Homo sapiens: one gene and its partner. The protein of the gene in region 1 purifies or fractionates together with the protein of each later gene. This does not show direct contact. Each region holds a gene or a part of one and is shown in the gene's direction. Other genes may lie near its edges.

Region 1 (3,500 bases):
TACTTTTTTAAAGAGCCACAATGATGTCATTGTTTTCAATGGATGTAATGTCTGCCAAATTATGTATCTCATTGGATGCTACATAGAAATTGGATAGTTTAAGTCTTTTTTGGAGCACTGAAGAAACAAATCTCCAACAAATGAAAGCAGATGAGGTTCCTAATAGTCCTTAAAAAATGGATAGTGAAATAAATTATTCTAGTAATATGTATTACTGGAAAGTGGATTTGAACACATGGTCTGGTGGCTATCAGCATAGACTGGGGTCAGAGAGACCTGGATTTGAGTTCTAGAGCTGCCGGCAACTAGCTCAGAGACTTTGGGAGTAATACTGTCTAGGTTTTAATTGTTTTTAACTGTAAAGTTGGAGTAACAATAGTGTCTGCCACAGTGGAAGGATGAAATGGGACAGTATATGTAAAGCCCCTAGCCCAGTGCCTGGCGCATAGAAGTTGCTCAATAAATGGCCTCTGTTGTTGTCACAACTTGAACCCTTCGACCACCTCTGTTAGACCATTGCTGTAGATGTTGCACCTGCGATAAGATTTCTGAATAAACTTTTTCTTTAACAGCTTTAAGATTAGTTCCCATCATTTGATGTATTTTAAATTTTTATTTTTATATTTTCTGAAGCATACTGTTTATCATACTGAATATGTACTTATTTTATGTATGAAGTTATTATATAGTTACATATTTTACCATGAATCTGTTAAACTTTGACAGATTTCTCTATAAGCAGTAACTAATTAGATCTAGCTACATTTTTCACAGCTATTTCTTCTGGAGAGCAATGCATACATTTTTAAAGAAGTTGGCCATGTTTAGATTGTGAAACAGATGAAAACCACAGGGTTTCGGTAGGAGCTCCCACCCATGCCTTTAGAGACACATGTATTATCCACCTAGTTCTACAAAAAAGTCATTATTAACACCACTTAAATGCATGGGAAGCTAAGCATCATGAAAGCAGGGTGGAGGCCTGGTCCCTCTCCTGTTCCCCGGAGCCCATGCTGGAAATATCTAAAGTAGAAAGACATAGAAATAGTAGACCCTGACTGCCACTTTGATAAGTGCAGAAAGGAAGTACTCCAAGGAACTATGGAAACGTGAAGGAGGCTTGGCAGTTTAACTGATAAGACAGGAAAGACTTTCCAGGGTAAATAAGGCTTATGTGGAGGCTTGAAGGATTTTGATGTCTTGGACGAGAGTCCAGGCAAAGGGAGATAGGAAATACCAGGAGACTTAAGAGAGCACAGCATGTGCTCCAGAAAGGCAAGAAGGTATACTAAAAGCAAGGTCAGAAAGGACTTGCCCTCCTTTGCATATGAAAGATTCCTTTGTAATTTTGCCTCTCTTTTCCACATTTTCAGTTACTTTGGTTAAACAAGAATGCAGAATATATTAAAATGTCAATATTAAGAGAAAAGACATCTACAGAATAAATTTTTAAAAATCATACCATGTGGGGGACAGGCACGGTGGCTCACGCCTGTAGTCCCAGCACTTTGGAAGACTGAGGTGGGCGGATCACTTGAGGTCAGAAGTTCAAGACCAGCCTGGCCAACAGGGTGAAACACTGTCTGTACTAAAAATGCAAAAAATGAGCTAGGTGTTGTGGCATGTGCCTGTAATCCCAGCTACTCAGGAGACTGAGGCAGGAGAATCGCTGGATCCCGGGAGGCGGAGGTCGCAGTGAGCCGAGACCGCACCACTGCACTCCAGCCTGGTGACAGAACGAGACTCCATCTCAAAACAAACAAACAAACAAAAAACCACACACACACACACACAAAACCATGTGGAAAAACTCCCTTTAGACTTTCTTTCTTTTTTTTTTTTTTAAATAAAACAATCCTAGGCTCTCAAAGCCAAAACAAAGAATAGAGATACTCTAGTTAAACTCACCTTAATAAACATGAAGAAACAGAAGCTGAAGAGTTTAAATAACTTGCTAAGTCGTCTCCTTGCTAGTTTGCTGGAGGGACTAAGTAGCAATCACTTAAAAATAGAATTTTGAATAAAAATATTTGAAGGATAACCTTATTTGACATTTAGTTTATACATACCATGTTTTTTAAAAGCTGGCATTTTTTTCTGTACACAAGTCAAAAAGTTATTTATTTTAGTCACTTAATTTTAAAAAATCGGCAGTTTAACATCTCTTTTTATTAGGAGTTATTTTTGTGGTGGTAACATTTTTAGATTTCCTATACCTCTTATTTCCTGCATTTAAATGCAGTTCATTTACCTGTCTTCTTTGCCTCAATGAGATTTCAGCCTTCTAGAACTTCTCATAGATTGAGGTTTTCCAATATGCTTTAAATGTTCTCTTATATCCAAACTTAAGAACTTGGGTATCAGGAACTGAGCGGGTTGACTTTATTGCTGATTTAAGCTTGAGAGAATTTTTTAAACTACGGAGTTAATAGGATTTAACTAGAAACTTGGGTTAGAGCTCTCATCAATCTTCTAAATTCCTTTGAAAATAAGCCACCATAAATTCACCTTAAGTTAATGAAAAATTGCTAATCCCTTTAGGTTCTTAAAAAACTTATTAAAAAATAACTCACCCTGCTTGAGATGTTTTATTAATGGCCTTATCTGGGAGAAAATAATAGTAGTCAAATTATTAACTCCTGCTAACTTATTAACTTTTATTAATGAGTTTAATACTCTCCTGCTTTATTGCAAAGTTAGGGACAAATATTGAAAGTCAATGCCAGAATTATTGGGCCAACTCTTATCCAAGTCTTACATCATTTCTGTTTTTCAGAAATTGGAATTTTTTAAATCTGTTTGTTATTTCAAGAAAAGAGTAAAGGAAGCTGGATGAGTTTACCTGTGCTCTTTTTAAGTGACCCATTGTCTGTATGACGTAATGGATCTTCATACATGGATCCTGCTTGACTTTCAGGGACTTGCTTTTGAAGCTCTAAAAGTTTTCTTTCACAGCAGTCCTAAGTTAAAAGAAAGCATAACAACAAATGAAAGGGCTTGTCATGCACGCAGTAATGGTGTCAGCCGAACCTTAAATATCTAGAAAATGGACCAACATATTCTAAACACTGTAGTTACTATATTCACATCAAAACAGCTTCTTTTTTTACTCCTATATAATTGCCACATAGTTTAAACCACGACTTCTGTTGAATTTCAACTGTGTTTACTCTAGCGAAAGTGACAGCTAAACATCTTATTGCTTTAAAACAAATGGAATACGTGTATTTTTTCCCCCCAGATTTGTCTATATTGGCACGTAGCCCTAGGATTATTGGCTGCTGCCAACAGGCAAAACAGTAATGCATGATTTAAAATTTTTCAGGTTATTTATAGAAAAGATGGTACCGAAAATGACATGTTTTCTGTAGAATTAATCTTTTGCTTTATTAGTAGGAAATCATTTAAATTTTATTTTTAAACTAAAGATTACTGGGACTAGTTTATTTATATTTTGGACTTAGGAGAAACTGTTGACATTCATTACGGTCTTTAGTCTG
Region 2 (3,500 bases), on another chromosome or scaffold:
ACCGTCAATAGAAATTACCATCTCCACAACTACTCTCCTCCCACCATCCCTGGAGAGATTTTTGAATTTTCATTTTCTATTCAAGGGCTGAGTATATGCATTAGGAAAAGAAAATGGTAACAGGAACAGAAAGAGCAGCAAGGACCTCTGACCAAGTTTGGATATTTCTCATTTCTGGGCTTCCGGGAAAAAGGGAGCTAGGACTGAGTTGGAAGGAAGAAAGCTGTGTAAAGAAAGTTAAAGAAGGTCATAAAGGCTTGGCCAGCCTCGTAGCTCTTCCCAAAGCAGGCTCTATTTTTGATCATTTGCATGGTTGTATGATAAATTACATTTTACATACATAAGCATACTATCATGGATAGTATGAATGTTTCTGTTTTTAACTGTGAGCCTCATTATTTCAAGTGCCCTTGGCTTGTACTGGGGAAAAGATGACTCTTGTCATTTTATCTGCATTTTCTCAGAGACTTGGGATCATGGGCAAGGAATGTCTTCATATTTTTTGCAGAAAATCATTTAAATATCAAGAAAAACTAAGTGTGCAAGGAACTTAAGGAAGCTCTTACAAGAACTTTTATTTTCCCTTTATTAAAAAATATTTGTCTTATTTTGGAATTTATCATTATTCTTTTTCAATTCTACTTTCATTAGGTTTTAAACCGATCTAGTTCCAAAGACATATGGCTTTATTAAAAGACATTGCAAATTTTCTTATTATGATAAACAGATAATAAGATGCCTTATAACAAAGGCAAAAAATTATTCAGTTATATTTGTAATTGTGAATCTATTATGAAGGTATGATGAAACAGTCAAGTTTAAGCAATATAAGTTGGGTATTGCATTAAATTTTCTTAAAGTGCTCCAAATTAAAATGAATCACATTTAAAAATCCATATATCCATGGTATTCCCTTTTTGGCTTCTTTTTTTTTTTTTTTTTTTTTTTGAGATGGAATCTCGTTATGTTGCTCAGGCCAGGCTGAAGTGCAATGGTGCGATCTTGGCTCACTACAAACTCCACCTCCTGGGTTCAAGCGATTCTCCTGCCTCAGCCTCCCGAGTTGCTGGGATTATAGGCGCCCACCACCACACCTGGCTAATTTTTGTATTTTTAGTAGAAACGGGGTTTCTTCATGTTGGCCAGGCTGATCTTGACCTGGCCTCAGGTGATCCACCTGCCTTGGCCTCCCAAAGTGCTGGGATTACAGGCATGATCCACCACACCCGACCCCCTTTTGGCTTCTAATAGCAATGATAGAACATATCTTGGGAGAAAAACTCTCCAGAATTTGTTTGTAAAAATAACCCTTGTTTGTGCCTAAAGCCACTCTTTGTTTACTAGTATTCCAAAATAATTTCCAAGAAATAAGTCAGGCTTCAATTAGAAGCACCTACTAATCCACAAACTGTGAATAACACATAACTCCAAGTACAAATCAGATTAGCTGGTACTGTCATGCTTTTTTCCACAAAGGATGGAGGGTGCTAAATGTCACAGCATATGTAGAGGTATTTAGAATCAGTATTTAGAATTAGTAGACTGCATTTTTCCCCAATAGGTTTCATAGAATGGGCAATATTATCAAAGATGTCAATAGATAGTCTCTGAAAAATAAAGTTTCATGGCCACATATATTTGGGAAACTCAGAATGTACAATTTTTTATATTTGGAGAATGTTGACACCTATTACTATATTAAAGACTCTGAGATGTACTATAAGAAAGAAATCTGTTGACCTTGTTTGTTGACCTCAGTGTTTTCCTCACTCTTTACATGGAATACAATTGAGGAAAGCTGTTTTAGCTATGTGGTTGGAAATGAGGAACACCGTTTTCACTCCTTCACCAGGGTCTACCCAGATCTCTGTTGTTCTCATTGACATGGTCATCATTGTCATCATCGTCATTGCAAAATTTGTTCTTAAATGAATTAAGCACCGTGCTGAGAAAGTTACATATATAATTTCGGTGTTATTCAAGTTTACAATTTAAGACTATCAGTTTGAATAGTACACACATCATCTAGCCAGCCAGTCACTAAAGGATTAATTCAAGATAAGGTACATTTTTGGTTTAAATTATAGGGTTTATATTTAGTTAAGGAAGAGAATAGAGAGGTGCCATTTTCAGACTGAAAGTCTCAGGATAAAGCCATTATCTATCTGTTAGCTATCTTTGAGGAAGATTTCTGGAACTGTTTAAATCATGAGGAGACTGCTTGGACAGTTAGGAAGAATGTCTCAGGCATAAAATGCTGCATTAGGAAAAGAAAATGGTAACAGGAACAGAAAGAGCAGCAAGGACCTCTGACCAAGGTTGGGTATTTCTCATTTCTGGGCTTCTGGGAAAAAGGGAGCTAGGACTGAGTTGGAAGGAAGAAAGCTGTGTAAAGAAAGTTAAAGAAGGTCAAAAAGGCTTGGCCAGCCTCATAGCTCTTCCCAAAGCAGGCTCTATTTTTGATCATTTGCATGGTTGTATGATAAATTACGTTTTATATACATAAGCATTTAGCTTGCTTACCAGAAGGATGCAACTTAATATGCCTTAATTTTATCATTGTTGTTTGTGAGGATAAAATCATTTGAGTCATGAATAAACAGATAATGAGCATATAATCTTTATGAATATACTTATGTATTACATTAATATTTTATTTTTAATAATAAAATGTGTTGAGAAATAACAGTATACAAGATAACAAATCTACATTGAATCAACTTGAATTGTTTTATTTCCCCAATTGACTGATAAGCGTGTAAATTAGTTATTTTAACCTACACAGGTATTCAAGTATACAAGCTATTTTGAATGAATATTTGTTTTTCTACTACAAAGTGTTATCAGTTCCTATTGAGTTCATAATTTGAGAAAGGCCTTGTTAGCACCAGACTTCAGCCAAAGGCAGCTTTTTAAAAATGTCCCCATCCTAACAAAAATAATCGTCTTTTTATTTACTGTGATTTATTTACTTATATGCCTGAGCCCCAGTTTTTGAAATTGAATGTATGAACTAAAATATTTGTAACTATAGAGAATTCTTTCCACTTCTGAATCTTATAGGTATCATTCCTATCCATGGGGGACCAAGAATCACCCAACCAAAAGATGAAAATGCTGCATTTTGAGTGGACTTGATTTTCTCAGTGAAGTTCAAGTTCTGGACTTCAGCCGCTATTGCAAGATGCCCAAGGATTGGGTGCTGCTAGAGGGTGTGGAAAAGACCAAGATGCCATGGGGCCTGCAGGACTTCTTTCTGGGGGTCCTGTGCTGGAGTATATGACAGCTGCGGTACTTGAGGGCTTCATTGCCAGAACACATTATATACAGGATGTCAGAGCTACCAGTGTGCTGCTGGGAGAAAATGCTGCAAAATTCATCTTTTGGAGGGTGGGGGGAAAACCCAAAAACAACAACAAAAAAACTCTCTTACAGAATTTTCCTTAACATTAAAAAAAACTTGTCATATTTTTCAAAGGCACATTTGATACTCAGAATTG

The links. Proteins that work in one complex are often made in the same cells at the same time.
Region 2: the proteins of CA2 (region 1) and NEK10 purify together in Homo sapiens (co-immunoprecipitation; one large-scale study listed by IntAct). This does not show direct contact.

Annotation. Positions count from the first base shown.
Region 1 is NC_000008.11:85,467,007-85,470,506, forward strand, and holds part of CA2 (carbonic anhydrase 2), read left to right. Parts: intron 1-3,500. UniProt on the Homo sapiens protein: Catalyzes the reversible hydration of carbon dioxide. Can also hydrate cyanamide to urea. Stimulates the chloride-bicarbonate exchange activity of SLC26A6. Essential for bone resorption and osteoclast differentiation.
Region 2 is NC_000003.12:27,110,884-27,114,383, reverse strand, and holds part of NEK10 (serine/threonine-protein kinase Nek10), read left to right. Parts: intron 1-85; coding exon of another isoform or gene 86-104; exon of another isoform or gene 105-158; intron 159-3,063; coding exon 3,064-3,112; 3' UTR 3,113-3,500. UniProt on the Homo sapiens protein: Plays a role in the cellular response to UV irradiation. Mediates G2/M cell cycle arrest, MEK autoactivation and ERK1/2-signaling pathway activation in response to UV irradiation.